Linked DNA regions of Homo sapiens: all the other regions are linked to region 1. Evidence: fine-mapped expression QTL. A gene starts in region 1. Each other region holds a variant in brackets. All regions are shown on one strand. Distances are between the middles of the regions. Region 1 holds the start of LRRN1 (leucine rich repeat neuronal 1). Region 2 holds the start of SETMAR (SET and mariner transposase domain methyltransferase). Region 3 has its middle 180 kb from the start of LRRN1. Region 4 has its middle 160 kb from the start of LRRN1. Region 5 overlaps CNTN4 (contactin 4).

What was found.
Region 2: its variant is fine-mapped to the expression of LRRN1 in whole blood (TOPMed, PIP above 0.99).
Region 3: its variant is fine-mapped to the expression of LRRN1 in whole blood (TOPMed, PIP above 0.99).
Region 4: its variant is fine-mapped to the expression of LRRN1 in unexposed skin (GTEx, PIP 0.98).
Region 5: its variant is fine-mapped to the expression of LRRN1 in whole blood (INTERVAL, PIP above 0.99).

The regions. Positions count from the first base shown.
Region 1 is chr3:3,797,061-3,802,166 of GRCh38, forward strand. It overlaps LRRN1 (leucine rich repeat neuronal 1), which reads left to right and starts at 2,371. Exons shown (of 2, transcript NM_020873.7): 1 at 2,371-2,859. It overlaps LOC100130207 (a long non-coding RNA gene), which reads right to left and starts at 3,815. Exons shown (of 6, transcript NR_149025.1): 1 at 3,641-3,815. RefSeq lists silencers at 2,272-2,341, 2,352-2,441, 2,582-2,691.
Region 2 is chr3:4,302,079-4,307,184 of GRCh38, forward strand. It overlaps SETMAR (SET and mariner transposase domain methyltransferase), which reads left to right and starts at 1,291. Exons shown (of 3, transcript NM_006515.4): 1 at 1,291-1,448. The coding sequence starts at 1,293. It also overlaps a transcript of SUMF1 not described here. RefSeq lists enhancers at 888-1,630, 1,659-1,728 and a silencer at 1,229-1,568. The variant A/T (reference allele first, on the strand shown) is at 2,499.
Region 3 is chr3:3,981,501-3,986,606 of GRCh38, forward strand. It overlaps the pseudogene PNPT1P1. Among named protein-coding and RNA genes, the nearest start is that of LRRN1, 180 kb to the left of the region's middle. The variant C/T (reference allele first, on the strand shown) is at 2,519.
Region 4 is chr3:3,634,661-3,639,766 of GRCh38, forward strand. No RefSeq gene overlaps it. Among named protein-coding and RNA genes, the nearest start is that of LRRN1, 160 kb to the right of the region's middle. The variant T/C (reference allele first, on the strand shown) is at 2,356.
Region 5 is chr3:2,906,143-2,911,248 of GRCh38, forward strand. The region is part of intron 12 of CNTN4 (contactin 4); the gene reads left to right. Among named protein-coding and RNA genes, the nearest start is that of CNTN4-AS1, 150 kb to the right of the region's middle. The variant A/G (reference allele first, on the strand shown) is at 2,944.

The sequences.
Region 1 (5,106 bases):
CTTTGCAGAGTTAAAAAAGGGTAATTTCTAAAATTTGGACCAATTACCAATTCAGGCAATTCAGCAAATTTCTAATAATTACACCACATTTCAGACTCTTTCATAATTGTCATGCTCATTTTTCCTCTTCTGTCCACAGCAAGCCCCATCCTCTCACCCAAATTCCTTCCCCCATCCCTGACACACATTTCTTCCTAATGATAATGCTCTTCTCTCTGTCTGGAACCAAATGCATGCAGTGGTCAAGTAGAAATGGGAAAAGCTGCCTTTCTCACTCTTGCCTTGGGGAAGAGGGAAATTAGTTTAAATAAATGATATGCTAATTTGAAAAGAAATGAATCGAACAGTGGAGAGACAGAGTCCATTTCCTCCACTGGAGCAGCTAGTGCCTTTGAGATATTCTGTCACATGCGGAATCATTATCCCACCTGTCTGAATTGATGTCTTGTTTTAGTCTTCAATACCTGCCTAATAATGCCTAGAGCTTACATCTGTCGTTGAATGCTTACTATATACTAAGCACTGTCCTAAGCATTTTACATGTTTACTCCCACTTAACCATCACAATCCTTTGGGATAAGTACTGATATTAACCCTACTTTAGAGCCAAGGAAATTAAGCCTTAAAGAGATAAAGTGACTTGCCATTAGGGACACAGCTCATAAATTGCAGGGCTGGGACCTAAGCAGTGTTGGCCTGGTTTCAAAATTCACACCTTGGTCCCTGACTCACACCATTCTCATGAAGTCTCTTCCAAAACCTGGAGGCTGTTCTAGATCTGGCCTCCCAAGAGCAACTCTCACCATCATTAATTGCTCCGACTGCTCCTCCAAGACCTACCTCTGTAAAGCTCCTCCTTGAAGGGCACAACCTCATCTCTCTTCCACTCCCAGGAAGGCAGGCTGGAAACCTAATAGAGACTCCCTAAGAAACCTGCATTCTATCTTTCCCTGACCATTCAATTTCCGTACTTCCACCAGAGCCCAACTTCTATCAGACAAACTCCATGCTATCTGCATGCTAACTCCATGGATAATCTGCATGAAAAGGGGGGAAAGAGACAAAATCATGTTACAAAACTTGGGCAAGGGTCTAGACTCAACTTGCTTTGAAAGATCTTAAATCTTCCCATTCATTTGTAGACAGCAGTGGGCCTTTTTCTTCCTCTGCTCTGCACGACCTTCTAGCCCAAGTGCTAGTATCACCTTTTCCTAAAGACTTTTAAGACAAACTGTGACCATTTATGTCTACATGACACAGTTTCAGGATAACAAAGTGTGAAGACACACAAAGACGTCAAACATTTATCAGAGACCTAAGCGAAACGCCAATAAATGTTACAGGGATCAAGAATATGGTTACTGACATTGAATGTATCCTGTGGCTTTGAAGAATCCAAAGGATGATTCTCGAATAATGTATCCTTCCAAATTCTCCAGAAGTTCTAAGTTTAGACATCATAATGAAATGTCACCACGTTCCTCTGCCAGAAGTTGTTCAGTACTGAGGGGCTAATGATGCTTTCGCTTAAAGCCGATTCCCCCAATAAAGGGTGCCAAGGCTTTTCTGAAGCCCTGCTTCCGGCTGGCGACTTTGAAGCTGAGACGCAGGTTCACGCGCAGTTTCCGAAGACCTATTCCGTCCCCACCCTCCTCCCCTTCCTCGGAGACACCTCCACTTAACACTGCCTTCTCAGTCCCTCGCCGCCTGTTTAAACACAACTTCCACCCCTCACAAATCAGAAAGCTGTAATTTCAAAGTTTCAGAAACGTTTTCGGAAAGCCTCCTCCAATGGGAAGCGACTTCGCCGCTGAGTTAAGCGTCCGAATCCTCCTTCCCGCGGCAGGGACACCGGCCCGGGCCAGGTCTGCGGAGGACGCCCCCGGGCGCGCACACACAGCCCGAGGACGCGCCCTGTATTTTAAGACGCAGGGTCGGATTTCACCCCGAAACTTGGCTCCCACAGCCCCAGGCCGAACTGTGTCTGGTTCTCAGCCCCCGAGCCCGAGTTCTACGCCGCAAAGAGATGGGGCCCCATTGTGCCTAGCTGGCCTCCTAGCACGGACGTGTATTTTCTTTTGGTCTGTCTTTTGCTAAAAACCGGCAGTGCGCTTCGCCTCCCTGCCCAGCCGCAGCCTGCCGTCCCCTAGACAAAAAGCGGCGACCGCGGCCCGGCCACCCGAGCCCCGCCGCGCTGCGCCTTTGTTGGGCGGTCCACAGATGGTGCCCAGCACGGGGCCGCGCCGAGGGCGGGGGCGGGAGGCCGCGAAGAGGGTCGGGCGGGAGGGGAGGAGACGGCGGAGCAGCCAATCCGCGCGCGGCCCATCAGCTGACCGCCTTTGCTTACACCAGGTGCACGCCGGCTGCGGGGAGCACAAAGCGGGGCGCACCGCGGGCGCCGGCAACGAGCCGGTGAACGAGGCGAGGCCCGTGCGCCCGCGGCTGCAAGCGCCCGCCTGGCGGGGAGAGGGGCCGACGGCGTCAGCCCGGGCGGCGGCATCCCTAGGCGCCTGGGGCGCCTTCCTCCGGACCTGGCCGCTCGCTGCCCCGCCCTCTGCACCCCACTTCTCCGACCCTCCTTCCCAGTCCTGCCTCCCCCTGCCCTGGCCTCTGAGAGCCGACTGAGCCCAGCCCCGTGCAGCAGCGGTTGCCTGTGTCGCCGCCTAGTCTCCGGTCTTGGTGCTCTCCCGGGGGTGCCCCAAGGAGCCAGTGCGCGCTGCGGGCTGGGAAGGAGGCGCCGCTCAGCTAGTCCTCCTCCTCCTCCTCGTCTTTCTCCTCCTCCTGCTGCTGCTGCCGCCGCCGCCGCCGTGGGTGCCGGGTCCGCGCGCACCCCAACACCCCCACCAGCTGGGCCTCGGGGTAAGTCCCTGGCCGGCCGCGCCGCGGCAGGAGGTGTGGGAGGCAGCGAGGGGAAGTCGAGGCAAACTTGGTGGCGTGGGAGACCCTACGGGGTCTGGGGAACCTCAGGGTAAGATCGCGGGCCTGAGGGGGACGAGGGGGCGCGGCTCACGGAGCTGGGGAAAATGACGAAGTCGGGAAACGAGAATATAGTGCCCCGTTTCCCCCCGTCCCCCTTGCCAAAAAAAAAAAAAAAAAGGTGTGGGAGAGCGATAGTTGGGAAGGCAGGCCAGATAGAAACAGGCAAAAAAAGGCAGTGACCGGAGCCGAGCCTGCTGGATTTCAGGGGCCGACCAGGGGAGGGAGGTGCCCGGGGACGGGGAGGGAGGAGGGCTGCCGGGATGTGAACCGGGGAAGGCAGCTGGGGCTGGAGAGCAGCGCGGAAAGGGGGCCCAGGGAGCTGGAAAGAGGGCCAAGAGGAGGGCAAGGAAGGTGGCGGGCGACGGGGAGAGGAAAGAAAAAGGGTGTCTTGGCGGTGGCCTTGGTAAGAGAAAGGGGCAAGGGGTATAATTGACAAGGCACTGAAAGTATTGAAGTCAGAGCCTTGGGAAGGATCTACCGAACTCTCGGCGGTCCACGCGGGGACAGACCTCAGCCCGTGAGCCTTGAGCTCCACGCGGGGACAGACCTCAGCCCGTGAGCCTTGAGCTCCACGCGGGGACAGACCTCAGCCCGTGAGCCTTGAGCTCCACGCGGGGACAGACCTCAGCCCGTGAGCCTTGAGCTCCACGCGGGGACAGACCTCAGCCCGTGAGCCTTGAGCTCCACGCGGGGACAGACCTCAGCCCGTGAGCCTTGAGCCCAGAAGGAGTGGCAGCCTCAGGACGTTTGCCAGGTGGCCTGGAATGTGAGGGAAGCCTCAGCCCCGCCAGGAACAGAGCTGGCGCTGAGTTCCCGGCTCGGCCCGGGTCAGAAGCGAGGAAAGTTTGCCGGCGAGTGTCCTTTGTGCTGCGTGGAGAGGGGTGTGGGCGGCCGCCGACTCGGCGCTTCCCCGCCGCCCGCCCAGGGAGTCCCTGCCTGGCAAGCTGGGGCTCGGGGAAAAGTCCAGCAGCGAGAGGGCCGCGTGTCCCGGGACGGTTCCAGGGGAGCCCGCGCGGAAACGCGGACCAGGCGCTTCGGCCCGGATGCCGGATCCAGGAGAAGGGGACCTCGCTTGCCGTGTCCACCGCCGCGGCCCCAGCGCCAAGAACAGAGCCTGGCCGTGAGTGAACGACTGGCCGGGGTACAAATGGTTCTGAAGCACTTGAAGCTCACAGGCAAAGGCTAAGAGTCTAAATCCCATCCCGCCGTAAGTATTTTCATTCCCAAACCTAAATCGTAAAGGAAAAGTGGAATTCTAATTGGGTGAGGGAACAGGTGCTGCCGACTCTGGCTTTTGCGTGGAGGATTTTCTAAAAGACAACATGTTTTGTTTTGTCTTGCCATGACAATCTAAATCATGTTAGTGGAATAGGCTCATTATTTCATTTTTAAAAGCTAGGGCTGGAGGAGTGGAAAGTTCAGGAAGGCACTTTGATCAGTATAAATCTAGAGTAAAAGTGTTATTGGCTCCAGGGCCATATGTGTCCCGAAGTCTCTGATTTGCATGCAAATGTGAGCGGATCCTGGCAGATGTCTGGCCTCATCCATTCACATGAAGGAATTTGAAAAGACAAGGAGTCTTCAGTTAACAATAGACCTTAAGAAAAGAGAATAAAGACGCAGTGTGAGTTTTTCTGTTTGGGAATTCCATGGTTTGCTGACACCTTTATTCAGGAGCCAAATTCTTTAAGTGCTATTGTATTGAAAGCTCAAAGTGCTGCTTGCTCTTTACCTGGCTGTATATATTCGTGCAATATTCAAGCTGGATATTCTAAGCTAGTTAGGAAAAGGTTTGTGTGAAGCAGACAGTAACTTTAACCCACTTCTGGCGGCTTGAAGTGATTTCTGAATTGACCCCTCAACTTTTCGAGTTTTCTTTTAATAATTTGACTCTTGCTCAAATTTGGTCCTCATCTTCAGAGCTATTCATTATAGTAGAAGATCGTTGTCGTTGACCGACATGAAGATTTCCTGAGAATGTCCACTGTCTAGCTGAGAATGTCCACTGTCTAGCCAAAGTCATTTCGGTTCTTAAGGCACCAAACTGTAGAACTGCAGGTGATGCAACTGTCCCAACCCTAGTTACCCGAGTGGTTTTCAGGTCACATAACAGTGAACGGGGAGGTA
Region 2 (5,106 bases), 510 kb after region 1:
AGCTGCAAGGTCAGAAGGGTTTGTGAACCCAAAATTATCTGAGACAGGTCTCAATTTAGAAAGTTTATTTTCCCAAGCTTAAGAATGCGCCCCCAACATAGCCTCAGGCAGTCCTGATGACATGTGCCCAAGGTGGTTGGGATACAGCTTACTCTCACACATTTTAGGGAGACATAATACATCAATCAATACATGTAAGATTGGTTGGATCTGGAAAGGCAGACAACGAGAAGCGGGTGAGGGGTGGCTTCCAGGTCATAGGTAGATTTAAAGATTTTCTGATTGGCAACTGGTTATTATCTAAAGACCTAAAATCAATAGAAACGAATGTCTGGGTTGCAATAAGAGGTTGTGGATACCAAATTTGATCGTGGAGATGAAGCCTCCAAGAGGTAAATTTCAGAGAACAGATTGTAAATGTTTCTTATCAGACTTAAGGTGTGTGTTGATGTTGATGCTGGCTGGCTTTTCCTGAATTCCAAAAGGAAGAAGGGCATAATGAGGCATGTTGGACCCCCCTTCCCATCATGGCCTGAACCACTTTCTCAGGTTAACCTTGGCAGAGAGGAGGGGTCCCTTCAGATGGTTTGGAGGATTGGAATTTTATTTTTGGTTTACAGTTTCAAGGAGAAGCAGGACAATCATGTCAGAGAGCTTCAGTGAGGTTGAAAATGCTCCACCGGATTCAGCAGTCTTGAGGCTATCAGAATCCTTTGGCAGGGCAGGGGTTTGGAGGGGTGAGGGTAGAGGGATGGAGAGGAGGGAAAAGGACAGGCAAAGGGGCACGGATACCTCCATCAGGGAGTGAGCATGCCCCCACACAAATTCCTTAAGGCACCCTGTGAGGCTATCGCCTTGGCACAAACCCTATCACATGTCAGTCAACTTCCCGGCAAGCCGCAGACCTTTAGAAACCTTGGTGTGCGTTTCCCCGCTCGGTTTAGAACGCACCCCTGCCTCCACTCCACAAACGTGCAGTGAGCCCTCAAAAACCTGGACAAATGACCTCACCTCGAAAGCCCCCTCTCTGATGCTCCCAGGAAAAACTAAAGCACCTCACTTTGTTTCGTCCGTACCTTACATGGTTTTGTAATTATCTGTGGTGCCTCTGGCTGAAATCAAAACGGGAGCCAGACCCAAAAAGTCAAGGAAGGGAAGCGCCTTCCAGGCCACTCCTGAGAAGAAACGAACTACAATTCCCATGAGGCGGTGGGGCCACGGGACCACAAGTCCCAGCATCCACCGCGCGGCCCAGGACTGTCAGGGTAGTGGGCGTTGCGTGAGGCGGGTAAATGTTCGCGGAAGCGGCAAAGACGACACGGCCTTGTGGGATGGCGGAGTTTAAGGAGAAGCCTGAGGCCCCGACTGAGCAGCTGGATGTCGCGTGCGGCCAGGAAAACTTGCCGGTGGGCGCGTGGCCCCCGGGGGCCGCGCCGGCGCCCTTCCAGGTAGGGGCGGGGCCAGGCGGCGCGGGAGGCGGGCGCGCGGCTCCCCCACGTGGTCTCCTCAAGCCGCCTCGCTGGGACGGCCTCCCAGTCGCGACCTTTTGTCTTCTCTTACAGCGCACCCGTTGGTGCGCGGGAATAGGTGTGCATGCCCCGGCCTGGGCCTTTTTCTGTTGACCCACGGCATCACCTTAGCAAGGGTGTTGTCCTTTTCAGTCCATTCCCTGAAGCGCAGAACCGGAGGCCTTGTGAGAACCTGGCTTTTTGTCCAGTCCTGTCCTCAGAACTCAAGGAGGCATCACGGGGGGAGTCATTTACCTCCCTGGTCTCAGGTGTCTCTCACAGGTAGGATAAGCCGTGGGGCCTATTAATGGATCGCAGCCGGTGTCGTGCATAAAAACAGCCCCTCGAGTCAGCCTTAGCTGTGGTCTCCCTCACGCTGTGGGCTCTTGGGCGAGTGTAAATTAGCTGTGGCTCAGCCTTAGAGTCTTCCAGCGTACAGTGGAACAGTACCTCTCTTCCGGAGTGCTTTGAAAATGGCAAGGAAAATACACTTTCCGGTTTGCTGTAAGAACTCAGTAAATGTTTGCTTCTATTAACTACCTCAAAGCCCTTTCTACTCTCCTTTTTCTTTTTGAGACTGAGTCTCGCTCTGTCGCCCAGGCTGGAGTGCACTGGCGCGATCTCGGCCCACCGCAACCTCCACCTCCCGGGTTCAAGCGATTCTCCTGCCTCAGCCTCCCGAGTAGCTGGGATTACAGGCATGGGCCACCACGCCCGGCTAATTTTTGTATTTTTAGTAGAGACAGGGTTTCTCCATGTTGGTCAGGCTGGTCTCGAACTCCCAACCTCAGGTGATCCGCCCGCCTCGGCCTCCCAAAATGCTGGGATTACAGGCATGAGCCACGCTCCCAGCCTCTACTGACTTTCTTATCCCTCCGACCTTGGCCTGAGCGTTACCCAAGGAATAAGGAATGACCAAAGATTTTGAAGTGGAAAGAGCGCTGGACGTGGAAGTTGGAGAGTATGGTTCGGAGCTTAGACATCTTAGCT[A/T]CTTCCCAGAGCCTGAGTTTCTTCATCTGCAAAATGAAAATAATAATTTAAAAATGCATAGCCCCTTTAACATCCATTATCAACAATGAACCCTATCTGCCCTTTCTTTTTCCTAGGGGTTTTTGTGAGGATCAGATAAGATAAGAGATTCAATAGCAGCTTTCAAAGATGTCAAGGAAAAGAATCAAACTCTAAAATATTTGAAGAGATTTATTCTGAGCCAAATATGAGTGACCATGGCCTGTGACACAGCCCTCAGGAGATGCTGAGAACATGTGTCCCAGGTGGTTAGGGCACAGCCTGGTTTTATACATGTTTGGGAGAGAGGAGACGTCAATCAAATACATTTAACATGTACATGGGTTTGGTTCAGAAGGCGGGGCAACTCAAAGTGGTGGGGGGGGCTTCCAGACTATAGGTAGATTTTAATTTTTCTGGTTAACAATTTTTCTGGTTAACAATTGGTTGAGTTTGTCTGAAGACCTGGGATCAATAGAAATGTTTAGGTTAAGATAAAGGGTTTTTTTTTGAGACGGAGCTTGACTCCATCACCCAGGCTAGAGTGTGGTGGTGCGATCAGCTCACTGCAACCTCCGCCTCCCAGGTTCAAGCGATTCTTCCACCTCAGCTTCCCGAGTAGCTGGAATTACAGGCGCCTACAACCACGCCCAGCTGATTTTTGTATTTTTAGTAGAGACAGGGTTTTACCATGTTGCCCAGGCTGGTCTCAAACTCCTGACCTCAAGTGATCCACCCACCTGGGCCTCCCAAAGTGCTGGGATTACAGACGTGAGCCACCGCACCCGGCCATGTAGAGACCCAAGTTTTAATTGTGGGGAGGAGACTCCCAGCTGACTTCAGAGGGAGCAGGTTGTAAAATGTTTCTTATCTAACTTAAAAAGGTGCCTCGGTCTTAGTTGATTATCTCCTTGTTGTGGAAAGAAAGAAAAAGAGGGGGAAAGGGGATTCTCTATAGAATGTGGATTTTTCCCACAAGAGACAACCCTCCAGGGCAATTTCAAGATATGGCAAGGAAATATATTTGGGGTTAAAATATTTTGATTTCTTCCCTTATTTGTTATTTGATGTTATGCCAGAGTCAGGTAGAAAGCAGACCATGCTATATAGGGTTAAAATTAAAACTCCTCTGATGAGACTTTATGGTTTGTAAGGCATGACTCCCCAGGTGCCTTGGGTAGGAATTTGGGCAAGATAAGAAAAAATCAGAGTTTAGTCCTCAAAGAGTAGAATAAGATATTAATGTCAGAAATTATTATTGTTCCCCAGACTACCTTTGGCAATTTATAGTTAATAATACAGTTAGCTGGCCCAATATTAAACAGTGGTCCCTGAAAACTTAGGACTAAGCATTGCTGAGTTCCTGGTCAAAAACACTGATTTAAAAAACCACTGTTCTAGTCCATTCTTAATTCAACAAATATTTATTGAGAGCTAAATATATGCAAGGTGGTGGGTTGGGCTGCAAAGAATACAACAAACAGAAAAACGCACTCTACCCTCAAGGTGTTTACAACTGTCACGATTAGCTTCAATATTCCTGCCGTGCGTGTGTGTGTGCGTTTGAGACTATTCTATAAATCTGTTTCCAATCTTGAGTCATATTTTTCTTTGCCATATCCAAGAACAATCTGTAAAACTATGTGCCCGACGTATTTTTTTAATTAACTCACTTTAAGCGTTAAATTATTTAAAAATAAATTATATAAGTATCTCCCTTAGAATCATTGTAATCATTAATGTCCATAAAATCATGAGGTTTTCTATTTCTCAAAGTGTATATTAAAATAAATACGTCTATTTTTAAAAGGGGAGAAAGGAGTGACAAGAGGAAGCTTTGTGATTGATTGTTACATCTACAGTTGGTGGGCATAAATGAAAATTGGGAGATTAAAACCCAGTCCCACAGTGTTCTAACTATCTCTGTATATGCACAGCTCCCAATAAAGTTAGAGTTACAAAAATAAGACAGGATGCCTTCCTAAGAGAGCTTATTGTCTTTCTTACCAAGAAGATCAAACATGCTTGAAACATTTAAGTGACAAGCCTAAAAGTGCATTCAACTCGTTTTCTTCCATGTATTCATGGAACACAAAACCAGTCTTATAAAAGGTCAAAACAGCTTGCTTGCTCCAAACCCTGCCTTCACAGGCATATGCACACATAAGAATTAAGGCATGAAAAACTTTCAAGATAAAAATAACTTTGTGTCTGTTTTGCCTTTGGCTACTGTGTGAAAAGGCAAAAAGAAATTCAAATGTTCATATTGGAAACAAGCATATCATAATGTCATCAGTGTTGAAAGCCAAGTAGAAAATAAACTAATTGATTTTATTGAGCTAACAGTTGGATCTAACCATTTTTCAGGTCTCTGAAACCAGCTTCAAACATTATTTTTAGATCTCAACAGGCCTTGACAAGAATTATCTGGCTCACAGTCTTCTAATAGCTGCTTGGAGGAAAAACAAACTTATGAGGCTAGAGGCCAAGTACAAAGATTCTTGTAGCTGGGGTTTCAACACAACCAAAAAAGGAATGAAGATTTTCACAACACTTCTTTATAATTCAGAGGCCCAGGTTTTAAGCCTAG
Region 3 (5,106 bases), 180 kb after region 1:
ATAGGCACTGGCTTTGAATATGGCCTGTTCCAGTTTGTGAACAGTCGTAGGCAAGTAAAGTTGTTGGGCAAAGAGGTGAGCTATAGGATGACTGAGGGTAAATTGTCACTACTGTATATAAAGAAGACAAATGAGATATAGGAAGAGATCTGTTATAATAACATATATGACATATATCTAAGTTTTTCATATATTTCAGAATTATAGAAAAAAAAGTATGTAATCTTTTCTAAGATGTATGGATGACTTACTTTTAATAATATTTCTTGATTTATAATGTAAATAAGATTAAGCGAATATGGGTTACTCTTGAATTTAAAAATTGGCACATGTAAATGAGCATTTTAATACAAATAATTAGAATATATTTATACTGTATACACAGCTACACAACGGAAGATACTACTAAAATTTTGCTCTATAGCACATTACCCTAGAAAACATAGAATTCTAGAATTCTCTTTAAAAAGATCACTGAGAATTATTAGATGATGACTGTGAAATAGGTTCTCCCAGTACAATACTACTTCTGTCATTCAAAGTTCTGACAACAGTTGTAGCTGAAGACTGAAGCACTTTATGAGAAAGCCTCATTCTTCCATCAGCTGGGTCACATCCAAAGTATTTCACCTGAATTTCTTGGCCAACTTCTAATCCTAGGGCAGTAGGATGTTTAATATTTCATTGATCAAGTTGTGTGTTATAAAGCAGTACCAAAATCATATTTGGATATAATTTTACCATTACACCAGTATCTCTGCTTTCAGTTATTGTGGCAGTACACACTGCTCCAAATTCTAATTGCTGCTCCTGATCATCCTTGCGGATTTCAGCAATGAAGTCTCTTGCCTCATGCATAGCACCGGGTGTTGGTGCAAATATAGAAAACGTTTCTTCATCCACCTGACTAATAGTTACAACTGTTTCAGCCTGAAGTTTTTTAAGTTATATCCACCTGGTCCAACAAATTTTTCTCATTTTGATAATGGAACCTGAACAGTTTCTACAACAGGTCCATTTTCTTTTCTAGATGCTTGAGGTTTTGAAATAGCTTTGTTCATGATCTGTAAAATCTCCTTTTTGCCACTGAAGCTTGTTGAATAGCCTCCATTACAATTTTCATTGTTATTCCAGGTAATTTAATATCTGCCTGTAATGCAGTTATTCCTTTATTAGTGCCAGCTATTTTGAAGTCCATGTCACCATTGTAAGCTTCAATTCCCAGAATATCTGTTAGCAAATGATAATCTTCTATTTCACCCTTCTCAAGATCGGTTTTGGTGGCCAATCCCATTGCTACACCTGTGACAGCAGATTAAATTGGAAGCCCTGAATCCATTAATGCTAAACTTCCACCACATGCAGATGCCATAGAAGATGACCCATTTGACTCTAGGACTTCAGATGTAACTCTTATGGCAAAAGGAAAATCTTTGGGAATAACAGGATACAAAGCTTTCTCAGCAAGAGCATCAGGCCCAAGTTCTCTTCTATTTATACCGGTGACTTTGACAATTTCATTAGTTGCATAAGGAGGAAACTCATAGTGCAGCATGAAATTTTTATCTTTTATCCCATTTATAGTTGTTATAACTCGATCCAACTTAATACTGGATTCTAATGAATCAAATGTAACAGCACAAAGCAGCTGTGTTTGTCCTCTTTGAAATAATTCTGATCCATGAAGGGTTTTAAACATATCTACCTCACAACTTATATTCCGAAGTAAAGTCAAATCCCGACCATCGCATCTTTTGTATTCATTCAAAATAATACTTCTAAAAACTTTCTTTGCAACAGTATTGAAGGATTCTATTATCTCATATAGATCGACCTCTGGAAATATTTCTTTTAGTTGTTCCTCTGTATCTAATCTTATTTTGTTAACAGCTTCATCTCTGGAAATTTTATCATGTTCATAATCTGTAAAAACTGCATAGAGTCTCTCCATAGTGAGTTTATGAGCATGTTTCACAATCTCTTGTGAAGGGGTAAATAACTTCTGAGGTGTCCTCTTGGTAACACCAATTTCTTTTACCAGCTGCTGGATGCCCTGAATTATTTGCTGGGTATATTTCACTCCCACTTTGATAGCGTGGCAAAAGTCCTGCTGTAAAATGTTCTCTGCAGAGGCTTCCAACATGACAGTCTGACTTTTAGGTGCTCCAGCAACCACTACATTTAAAGTACTAGAAGACATTTCTTTTCTTGTTGGGTTAACAACACATTCTCCATCAGTCATTCCTATTCATACTGTCCCAACAGGTCCATTCCAAAGAATATCTGATAATGAGAGGGCTACAGAGGTTGCCATTAATTGCTAGGACATCAAGTTCATTAATACCATCTACTGCTAACAGATTACACAGAACCTGTATATCACAGAAGTAGCCAGCTGGAAAGATAGGTCTAACTGAACAATCTACTATTCAACGTGTAAGAATTTCTTTATCAGAAGTACTAATCTCTCTTCTCAGAGGGTTTGTGGGAATTCTACCTACTGCAGCAGCCTTTTGTC[C/T]GTAGTCAACCACCAAAGGCATAAACTGGGAAGGGGAAGGTTTTGTTTTACTGACGGCTGTGGCCATTACCGCAGTGTCACCTGACTGTATTACAGCAGAGCCATTTGCAAATCTGGCCAGCTTTCCAGAGGATATTTCTAATTTCCTGTTGCCCAAGTCCATGGCCACAGCTTGAGACCCTGTGCTACTCAATAGTGCTCGCACCTGCAACTGGATGAGTGCCCGATCCCACCCTGGCAGACAGAAGGGACCATCACTCAGCGGCCGGAGCCACAGGCTCAGTGAGGTCTTAGCTTCCTCCTGTTATCCTCTGTAGCAATGCCTTAGTGTTTCCTTCACAGCACTTATTACAATTTGTAGTCATTTACTGATGTGATTATTGGTTATTATCCCTCATGAGTCTCACAGCTAAATGACAGCAGGGATCAAGTCTGTCTTCTTCCCTGTGTCACAGCTGTATCTGGCACCAAGCACATACAAGGCATTTGATAAGTATTCTTTAACATAATGAAAATGAAGTACATTTATAACACTATTCTTTCTACCCAAAGAGAACAAAAAAATTATGGACTTCCATTCTGTGTCAATATATTCAACAGGATAGAAGAAATAACACAACTGAAGGTTGCAAAATACTGAAAGTTATCAACGCTTATTCTCTAGAGATCCTTGTTAAACAATGTCCCATCCATCAAGGGTGAATTAGATTTGTCCCTGGCTTGAGGACAGAATAAGATGACTTCACCCGACTCCTTATAAACTTATAATTTTATGAAAAATCCATGAGCTCTCATCTTTCCAGCACTCTGATAACGAGGTAATTACCCTTTTAATGAAAAAGGAAGCCTTTTTATATCTATCCCCATTGAATTATGGACCTCAAAATTGAAATGAAGTCTAATAGACATCAAGCACAACTACCTGCCAGTTCCTAACAAGGATGAGGAAAAAAAAATAGTGATATCTGGGGAGCCAACGGGCAGTATGACAGGGTGTCCTTCCTGCCTTCTCTGATGACACTTTGCTATCAACACCAGTTCTTCCTTTTGTGCCTTACTCAGTTTGTAAGCCAGTCTGCAACAGTAGAAAAGTCATTAGTCACCCTTCCCTATCTGTTCCATGGGCTTTGAAATGAAGCCCTGGTTCAGGTTCCCATTTAGGTGTGACTTTCTCCATTCCTACTATGTTGACTGTAATCAAAGGGCTGGGCTCAGTCCTGACAACACGTTCAGATCCCACACTGCACTAGCCCTGCTCTAGAATCTCAATCTATTTTCCCAGTGTCCTAAGACCTGTCAAAGCCCCTGCCACCAGCCTCTTCCACTACTGACTGAGCTCTTCCATCAAACGACTGATTAATGGAACCACAACACCGACACCCCACATGAATTGCACCCGGAGCCCACAATCCATACTCCTTCCCCATGCTCCTTCAGTTTATCGATGCTGTTTAATTATCAGTAGTGGCTCGGATTAAGCCCTAAACATCTAGCTACCCTGTTCCACAGCCAAGACTGTTACTCTCACTCCTCACTCCTAGGTCTTGCCTAACTCCCCCCATTTCAGGTATTTTATAGCTGAGTCTCTACAAGTTATCACTCACAGCTAAATTCACACTTTTACTTGGTCTCTACATTTTAATCCTTGGTGATCTCTTTTTATGCAATTGCCAGTTTAGAGGCATAATCTTGTAAACCTTTACCTTCTGGACAGTAGCATCGGAAAGTTCATTACTTTCAGTTACGATACAACAGCGAGTGACAAATGCAGCTTTGGAAAGCGGAAAACTTCTTTCTCCTTGAGAGTCTCTGCACAACTTTCCACATTTGGAACCCAAGGACATTTCCTTTCTCTCTCTGCTAACATGGAGTACAGAAAGGTTACATTAGCTAATAAAAGCCCTCTGCTGACAAAAGATGCGTTTGAAAAGTCACTCGAAAAGGGAGCTCTCTCGATAGCTTTATTAAAATAAAATGCCATATCTTTGTGAAGTTAAAAGTCTCTGGATTGTGGTTAAAAGTCTGGTCTGCTCCTTATACAATGGAAAGTCTTTCAAAAGCCACGTGTTTCTTAAGCTGGCCTCACCATGCATAACAGCTAGAATATAAATCTAGACTCTCGCCGCCCATCTATCTTTTCTTTTCTGTGTCATGTAGAGGTTCCTATGTGAAGGAAAGATCTCCAGAATAAGATGAGAGATAGCTTTTATAAGAACACCAAATGATAGAAATTATGGAAATCATGATATTGAAATAATTTCTTCCAAGTTAAAACATCAGGAACATTTTTGCTTATCAGATAGGCAAGAATACTTAAATTTGAATGTTGGTCAGCATTCAACAAGAAGGCAGTGCCTAGACCCTTGGCTTATGAATTGGGGGCAATTGCAGCTTCCTTCATTCCTCTGAAGGGTTGAGAACTTATGCAAAGCCATGGGTGCAGTGCTGTCCGACGCCCTGCAGAGGTGATGCCAAGAGTAAGGCTAAATATGCCGTTTTTGAGAGGGAGCCCAGAAAGCCAGACTTCAGCAGACACCAAAGAGTCTATTGAACTACTCTGATGGGAGGATATGCAAGAGCAATGCTGA
Region 4 (5,106 bases), 160 kb before region 1:
TAAAGTCAGAGAGACAGATAAAAATATGGGCCACCTAAATTACCCTTTAAAGAAAGCCTTGCACCCCAGCCACAGGAGGTGCAGTCAGCAGATGGCCTTCCGCTGCCACTGTCTCAGGGTCAGCCTCAGGTGCGCTTGCTTTGTCAGAGTTTTACCCTTCCAGGTTGTAAAGACCGACGACTTTGGCCTGATGGATGACACCCTGGAGGTACTTTTCCAGAGCTCCCTCACAGATAGGTTGACAAGGCTGTGTCAGGCCTGCATCCCAATTTGACTTCTTTTGTCCAATACTACTCCCCTTCCTTTCTACTAACACTGCTCTCTGATAAATATCTTCAGTCCCAAACTCCATCTGGCATCTGCTTCCAGAGAACCCATCCTGAAAGACCAGCATGGATCCAACCACAAAGGCTCTGTGTATGAAGCTGAGATGTGTTCCCTGAGTTCAAGCATTTCAAAATGAGAACCAACTAATGAACTGTCTGTCCTCTGACAAACTCTTCAGAGTCTCTCCAAGTCTGAAATAGATGTCCCATCCTGTTACAAAGTTGAAACATCTAAACTCTGGTGAGAAGATTAGAGAAAAAGAATAGAAACCAACGCCATTGTATTCATTCAACAAACATTTCCTGAATGCCTAGTCAGCATCAGATACTGTCTGATCTGAGAGTACCAGACCTCAAGAGTAAGACATGGCACAGGGCCCTCTCATGGAAGGCTTCCTGAAGGAGATAGCTCCTGAGAAGAGCCCAAGCTTGTTAGAAGGGACATGTGGCTAAATAAACAATGTGAAAATTAAGATCCAACACACAGAATTACAGGATAAGCTCTATATTCATTTCCTAGGGATGACATAAAAAAAGTACCACAAACTGGGTGGCTTTAAACAAGAGAAAGTTACTCTCTCACAATTTAGAAGTCAAAAATCAAGGTGTTGGGAGCCCCTGCTCCCTGTCAAGACTCAGGGAAGTATCTGTCTTTGTCTCTTCCTAGTTTCTGGAGTTACTGGCAATCCTTGGCATTTTTGGCTCTGCCTCCATCATCACAAGGTATTTCCCCCATGTGTCTGTCTGTGTCTCTGTTTTGTCTTATAAGGACACCATTCATATTGGATTAGGGCCCACCCTAATGGAATATGACCTCATCTTGATTACATTTGCAAGGACCCTATTTCCGAATGAGAGCACATGTAGATGTTCCAGGGGTTAGAATCTCAACATATCTTTTTGGTGAGCACAATTCAACTCCCAACAGGCTCCAGCAAGAATGTCACCAGCCTCTACAGGCAGTGATCAAAGAGACTGGAAGCACTAATTTTAGAGCCAGTGGAATACTGGAATTGTGGCTTTCCCTTTACTACTGTGTGTATGTGATGTTGAACCAACTACTTTTCCCTTTTCCTCTAAGCTGAAAGTGTTCTCAGGTATAAAATAGGAACAGTGTCAGTATGTGCTGAGATTATTCTTTCTCCTCTTCTTCCAGACATACTCCTTCCTGAAGTTAGGCATAGTCATTTGACTTTCTGCAGCTAATCCAAGCAGAAATTATGTGTAGCACTCCAGTGTAGAAGTATTGAAGACTTGGCACCCAATTCCCCTTGCTCTCTTCCCCTCCCATGGCTAGTCCTGAAGACATTTGTTGAGATGACAGTATCATCCTCCATTGGCTTTGGTTCCTGAGTAATAATGGTAAGCAGAGACCCCTGACTACCTGCATTGAAAAGACAGTATGAACAATAAATAAATCTTTGTTCCATTAACCATTGAGATTTTAGTATTATTGGCTACTGCAGTATGACCTAACCTATCCTAACTGGAACAGAGTGTTGACCTCACAGGATTGTTACGAGGTTTAACTAAGATAAAGCACATAAATTACTCAGCATGGTGCCTGGAAAATAAGAAATCTCAATAAATACTTTTTTTTATGCCCAAGGGAGCAAATACATTGCAGCATTTACATGGCAAAAATTTTGTGACTCCATTCTCATTCTAGAATATTGAGAAAAAAAGAACTCATATTGAACAGCTGGTGTATTCCATCCACACTGGTAACATTTATTGAAAGACTACTACAATGCCAAGTACTGCTCTAATAACTTTACCTGCAGTAATTTGCTTAATCCTCACAACTACCATAGGAGGTAGGTAGTAGGATTATCTTTTTTCACAGGAAAGGAAATTAAAGCACAGTGAGGTTAAATAACTTGCCCAACATCATAAAGTCAGGAAATGGCAGAGCCCTGGCAACCTGGCTCCAGCCGGAGCACTGCCCCAGGCTCTTGCAGGAACAAGTACAAACAACAGAGCATGTTTGAGCACATTCCAGGACTATCTTGGAAGGGAAAGCAACTTC[T/C]GAGGAAGATGCATCTTGCTCCAAAGATGCCCCAGGGTCAAATTAGCCATCATCCCAGGAGAGTAACAAAATGCTTTCAGGTCTCATCTGCTAAACTTGGCCAAGATGAATACAAAACATTTGCGAGCTAGAGACTTCATTTTGCAGTGCCATCACCAACAATCCAACATATCTGGTTTTAGCTAGACACTTACAAACAAGCAGAGCACGTAGCCTTGAGGCTGAGCACACAGAGAAGCAACAGATGCCGCCCACGGAAGGCCACAGAACCTTGTTCTCCAAGGCTGCAGGAGAGGAGGGATTGAGAATTCCTTGGAACCCAGAAGTGATGAATTTACAACAACCCCTTGAACAATTCCATCTGAATTTATATGGGTTTGGCCTTTGTCCCTGCTCTCCATGAAAAGCCGTAGTATGGCAGGTAATGAAAACACAAAGCCTTTTCTAGAGCGAAGTTTTATTTACTGAAATTACCCCAACACCTTGGAGTCAGAAGACCAGATGTGTATTTTATGTGCTGTGGCTTTCTAGAGAGAAACACTTAGAATGGCCATCTGTATTAGTTTGCTAGGTCTGCCACTACCAAGTACCACAGACTGGGTGGCTTAATCAACAGAAATTTATTTCCTCACAATTCTGGAGGCTGGAAGTCAGAGAGATGGATGTGTCCACAGGGTTGGTTTCTTCCGAGGCCTCTGTCCTCAGCTTACAGATGGTGACCTTCTGGTTGTGTCCTCACAGGGTCTTCTCTCTGTCCCTGTGTCCTAATCTCCTCTTCTTGTAGAGACACCAGTCTTACTGAATTAGTGCCTACCCTAATGACCTCATTTTAATTTGATTACCTTTGTAAAAACCCTATCTTCAAATACAGTCACATTCTGAGGTACTAGGGCTTCGGACTTCAGCATATGAATTTGGGTGGGGCCCAATTCAGCCCCTAACACTGTCCAATACAGGAACTGTAGTTTATAGGAAAAAAAAAAAAGCTCCACAACCTCTTAGGTAATAGAACTAGTTCCAAATATTCTAGATGGGAGATTCTTTTTCAAAATTAGCAGTTAGTTTTTAAAGCTAGTTTTGTTCGGTCAGCTAGCTGTTCTCTTCCATTTATGCAAGGAAAAGGGATATTAGTAGAAAGCCTAATGCCCTTTACGAGGGTGCCTTGTGGCCAAAACCAAAGAAAAGTGGGCCACCAGCCAGCCATACTGAGCATACAGCCATCTTATATGCAACACTACCTCTTATTTCTATCTACATAGCACTTTACAGTTTCAACGATCACTTTCTATCTTTACACCACCCCATGAGGAAATCATAGACTAGTTAATATTCCTTGAACTGATTGGGAAGCTAGGGCTCCGAGAAAGTGACACGTCACTTGTTTAGTAAATGGCAAATCAGAAAATGGCTCTGTCACCCAGGCTGGAGTGCAGCGGCATGATCTCAGCTCACTGCAACCTCCACCTCCCAGGCTCAAGGGATCCTCCCACCTCAGCCTCCAGAGTAGCTGGGACTACAGGTGCACGCCACCATACCGGCTAATTTTTTTTGTATTTTTTGTAGAGTAGAGGTCTCACTATGTTGCCCAGGCTGGTCTCAAGCTCCTGGACTCAAGCTACCTGCCCACCTTGGCCTCCCAAAGTGCTGGGATTACAGGCGTGAATTCTTGATTGAAAATTATTTAGTAGTGGGGTTTATATCATCAACTCAAATATAATATATATTTAAAAGTTTGGCCCCAACTACGTAATCTTAAGTGTCATAGTCTATTTATCTCAGAAAACAAGTTCTACTGTATACCAACGAACCTCTCAAAAAAATCAACAGCTGAGACTACTTTAAAAAGAAGTACAAGAAGAGCTTCAGAGGAAAGGGAGAATAATTTGCCCATGCAAGAATGACTTACTCTGCTGGATATGGAAGGCATATCACAAAATTAGGTACTATACAGTTAATATATGGTAGTAACACAAGAACAGCCAGAGATGAATGGAGTAGGATAGTTGATAATTTTTCTCCAACATTCATAATTGACGAATTCAACAGAATGTATAGAAAAGAGTTATATCTTCGTATTCAGTATATAAAAACAATTGGTAGAAATAATAATCACTTAATATATGAAATTATGTTATTAATATCAAAAAATACCAATTAAAACATCAAAAATACTACTTATAATTATTAAATGGCATATCTCGAGCAGAAATTTGTACAATTATAACCAAGGGAAGCATTCAGAGAAATGGAATCTTGTTGATTAGCTGACTTTGCAATTAACTAACTTTTGGGTTTTGAATACATAAAATAATTCTTTTAACTAAATAATAAATATGGAAAAGAATAAATATAATTCATCATTTAAAAATGTAACTATAACACATACTCTTTATAGACAATTTGAAAATATAAAAACTTATAAAGAATAATATTAAAATGGCCCTAAGTTTTATCTCCAACATATAGCCATTATTGACAGGGTAGGGTGGTTTTTAACTCAATGACTCATTCACATATATAATTGTGGGTCCTATTTTGTTTTCACCTAATGTTATATTTGCAATATTTTCCTATTTTCTAAGCTATTCTTTGAAAACATATTAATAGTTGCAAAGTAGTCAATCATTTATATATAAATTATAGGTTTGTCATTCATCATCAAACAATGAGCTTTCTGATTTTTGTTAAAAATAAATAATACAAGCCCGGCATGGTGGCTCATGCCTGTAATCCCAGCACTTTGGGAGGCTG
Region 5 (5,106 bases), 890 kb before region 1:
AAGAAATAGAGTAGAATGCTGGTTGTCAGGGTCGGGGGAATCGGCGGGGGAGGGTTGGGAAGATGTCGTTCAAAGAATACAACACTTCAGTTAGATGGGACAAATACATTCAAGCACTCTATTGTATAACACGATGATTATAGTTAATAACAAGATATCGTACTCTCAAAAAATGCTGAGGGAGCGGATGTTAAGTGTTTCACCACAAAAATGATAATTATATAAGGTAATTTATGTTAACTAGCTGGATTTAATCATTCTACAACGTATATAAATACTTCAAAACATGTTGTATGTAATAGATACAATTGTGTCTGTCAATCTAAAAAGTAAAATAATAAAAAAAATAAAAATTTTGATTCAAATACATAAAGCATATATCGGAAAATTTAAACTTGAAAAAGAAAGATGGTGGCCGGGCACGGTGGCTCACAGCTGTAATCCCAGCACTTTGGGAGGCCGAGGCAGGCGGATCACCTGAGGTTGGGAGATCGAGCCCAGCCTAGCCAAAATGGTGAAACCCCATATCTACTAAAAATATATATATATAAATTAGCCGAGCATGGTGGCGCATGCCTGTAATCCCAGCTACTCGGGAGGCTGAGGCAGGAGAATCACTTAGACCCGGGAGACAGAGGTTGCAGTGAGCCAAGATCGTGTCATTGCACTCCGGCCTGGGCAACAAGAGTGAAACTCCTTCTCAAAAAAAAAAAAAAAGAAAAAGAGAAAAGAAAAAGAAAGATGGAGAAGTCATTAAGGACCAATTTTGGAGATTCTTGAATGACAAGCTTGCAAGTTCCCTATTTAATATCCCATTTTCCCTTCCAAAAATTCCCAGTAATATATTTCAGGTAAATTGAAGGGCAGTTAAAGATTGAGTGTGTAAACCCGTAGAGTCTCTCTTAAGTGAATAAGGGAGAAGACATCTGCCTATTTAAAGATACATAGAAATTAATATTGGTTAACTTGGGTAAGACATAATATGATTGTTTTCCACAAGTCACTTTGTTCCTTATATAGCAGGAATAGTTTGGCTCTTTTGGATCAAATAACTAAATTGTCATTACCTATGCTAGAATCATGAGGATGCTGAATTGAACAAAGAAACAAAATGGAAACAAGATAATCTCTTGTTAAGATTATCTCTTGGCCGGGTGTAGTGGCTCACGCCTGTAATCCCAGCACTTTGGGAAGTCAAGGTGGGTGGATCACCTGAGGTCAGGAGTTCCAGAACAGCCTGGCCACCATGGCAAAACCCCATCTCTACTAAAAATACAAAAATCAGCTGGACATGGTGGTGCATGCTTGTCGTCCCAGCTATCTGGGAGGCTGAGGCAGGAGAATCACTTGAACCCGGGAGGCAAAGGTTGCAGTCAGCTAAGATTGCACCACTGCACTCCAGCCTGGGTGACAGAGTGAGACTGTCTCAAAAAAAAAAAAAAATTATCTCTTGATAATCTGTATAAGAAAGAAAAAATATATATGTTGGTTCCACCTATTGATTAAATATCAGGAACCTCCAATGCTATAGAGGAGATTCCTTTTAATGTTGGGTGATAGCCCTACGGTCATGAATAAGAGATGGTTAGGAAGCATATATTTAATAGGTTTTTCCCTTGGTTTTATTTTATGTGTTCTGTCTTGGTATTTAATGTGTATGTAACATGTCTATTTAATGGATTTAAACTGCTAAATAATTAATCTGTGTGCTGGGTGATTTACTCACTGGATGGGCAAACGCCATAGAGAGACTTTTATCTTGAGGTCAGTATATTGGTAGGCCTGGTTATGAGTACATCAAATGGAAGTGTCCTTGTCTGTGACTGAACTATGACAATTGGCAGTTTATTTTTTTCCCAAGGCAACTCCTCCTAGATCTTTTCTGCTGTCTTAGCCTGAGTCATGGATGAGATTCACTTGTGGGATATATCCCTGTGGACATCCCTGAGGTGCTGTACAACTCCCTGGGTGATAACCATCATTCCACTCCTCTCCCCCACTCATGAAGGTGTATTACAATTAGAGTAAATAGAGTCTTGTAATCATGGGGAAACTGAATCTTCTATACGTAACTTAAAAAGTAAAGATAACTAAGTTAGGTATTTTGTTGGTGAAAAAATAACTTTTCTAAAGTAATAGTTCTACCCATGTTTAGTATTTGTGTCCACTCAGATGATCATATTGGCGATGGGGACTGCTGATTAAATTGCCAAACTTGAAATCATTGGGTAAATATAGAGGATAGCTAAGGTCTCCAAAGCAAGTCTGAGGCAAGTATTCAGGTATCTGCAATTCACTGAAAGAGTGTTCTCCAGGAAAAACCTGTAAGGAAAAGCAGAATAAGGAAGAAGGAGGAACCAAACAAGGATGGGGTCTTAGGTAAAGTCTAGCCTAAGTCTAATCCAGAAGGGAGATTTCTGGAACATAAACTGTACCTCAGACCCATTTCCACCTTGAGATAATGAGGCTAGCTTTTTAAAAAATCTCCATGTTAATCACTTCCTAAGCTACCTCTTAAGTGGGGTTCCAGAAGTGGTGGGGGTCAAAAATCTTTGATTTTGCTTATATATGTGAGAATATTGTGAAAAAAGTTTTTTGATTTTACAGTGGGAGGAGCCATCCCTAAGGGTGAGTGGGTATCTGCCCAGTGGTCTTTTGAATATGACTTGACTTTTCCAGGACTGTATAATGGAGGAGAAGTAGCTTCTATCCTGAGGAAATTATGTCTAATGGTTCAGTATCCCGGGGGTTCTCCTGGCCTGTGTGGTGGAACACATCTGACCCTGGCAGGACACTCAAATACCATCAAGTAACTGATGGCCCAATTAAAGTGAGGTGCAACCTTGAGCGATTATCTGGTTAATTTGGCATCTACCCAGGTGATTGGCTCCCAAATTAGAAAAACATTAAGGCTAAACTAAAAGTTATTTCATAGGGACTTTC[A/G]CAAGTGCTCATCTGCATCTGATTTCTCAACTGCCTCGTTGAGCCAGGTTACAAAATAATCAGATGTGCTGAGTGTGATCAGCATCGAATGAGAGGACACATGCCTTTCTTACCCAACTGCAGTCATCCAGGCAAGAGCTTTACTTAAGTTGTCATGAAGAGGGGAGCTGTGCACTTGGCTCTCAAAAGCAAATTTGGTGTCTTTATCAAGTTATTGATCATATACGTACCAGTAGTAGGAGGATGTCATTACTCATCTTACTGTGAAAACTGACAGAATTACACGTGAAAGCCTTTGCAAACCTAAAGGTGTTTATAACAATATAAGAAGGTTTGGGCTTTTTTTTTTTTCTCTTAGTATCCATACCAAACACTTAGAGATAGCCATGAAATCACCAGTAAATCCCAGTTCTGTGCTTCTCAATTTTTGCTGCAGATTACAATCATCTGGGGAACTCTTTACTATCCTGATGGCATACCATACTCGTTATCAACTAATTCAGTCTCTGATCCTAGGACCCAGGCATTTTTCCTTAAAGCTCCCCAGGTGTGATTCCGAAGAACAACAGAATTTGAGAACTATTGCTTTAATTGATCAGGTTTAAAAAGCCATTGAATTTTCCTAAAATATTGATTATCAGGCTTTATCGTGCATCACAGTAATCTAGAGGACATGTTAATACACAGATTGCTGAACTCTACCCTGAGAATTTCTGATATAGTAGCTCTAGAGTGGGGCCTGGGAATTTATATTTCTAACAAGTGATGTTGATGCTGATGCTGCTTATCCAAGACCACCGTTTGAGAACCACTATCCTAAAATAGGAAATCTGTCCTACACAGAGGGCTTTTGTTGTTGTTTTTAAAAATTGAACATAGTCTCCCTACCAAAACATCTGATTTTGGATCAAAAAGCACTCTGAATCCGAAGTACCCCTGTATGAGAGAAAGAGCAGGCATCAGAGATTCCAACCATGGCTGAAGGCCCCATTTCAACAAGAGAGTGAATAGGAATAAAGCACACAGAATGTCTTGACAGACTACCATGTGAGGCTTGAGCTAAAGTGCTGCATGGCATGACTCTGGTAGTTAAAGCCAACTGAGGGGAGACATTGAAAGCTGATAAATATTATGATAAATATTATGATCATCCCTTACATCAATTCCCCCAAAGAAATGCAGTGAGTCAGAGTTTAAAATATTACTCTAGAATGCAGCCTAAGGCATCACTGAGCATTAATACTTTATATACAATCCTATAACCAAAATATCTGAATCTTCTGTAAAACTGCTGTGAAGAGATGATCCATCTTGAAGTCCTTAGTCCTTTTCATAAAAATATTTCCAATAAATTTCTCATAAAATGTAGAACTTCTCTCTTAAAAGAAGAAAAGTTTGCATCTTCTAGTAAAGAGGCAAAGTTTTTCATCAGTCAGTAAGAAATATGTTATTTTTCTCTTTGCCCAGTCTGGGATTAATTTAACTCTATTGTATTAATTCTAGTGAGATTGTTTTCTACCCTTCCCCTGTTTGAATTGAGTCATATTGTAAATGTATTTACTACTTTATGTCTTTTACCATTATCTACCCCAAGTTCTTTGAATTTGTGAATGAATAAATAAATGAAGTAACTATTTTTCCCCCTCCACCACCTTCTGGCAAAATTGATTGCATTTGGGGAGCCTAATCTAAGGAGTATTAATTAGACTGACATTCAAGATTTGGTAGTGGGGGGTGATTCATCAAGATAGTCAAAAGGGAAGCCCCAGACCCTTTTTCCCCAATGGACCAGTTGCCATTGAAAGAAATAAAACCAGTTAAGAGATTTCTGCACTCCAGTCAAGTGTAAAGCCAATAGCATTAAAGCACTGTAGAAAAATTTATGGCACTCGCTTGCTGGAGCACCTCCCACTCCCCACAGCGTAGCACAGAGCTATCAGTAGAAAACTTCCAATTCCTAATTTCTTGCTGGGGAGGGAAAGAAAAGAGTGGAAGGTATATCCAGTGTTTTTACTTTTGAGGGGGAAGTACTACCTAAGGGAGTGGTTTCCGTTTTGCCTGAATCTAAGTGATGACAGAAACTGGGCTATGTGGGAGGCCCCCTGAGAACAAAGTCTTATCAACATGGCTTGGTCTGGTATCAGGCTGTACCACAGACACTAG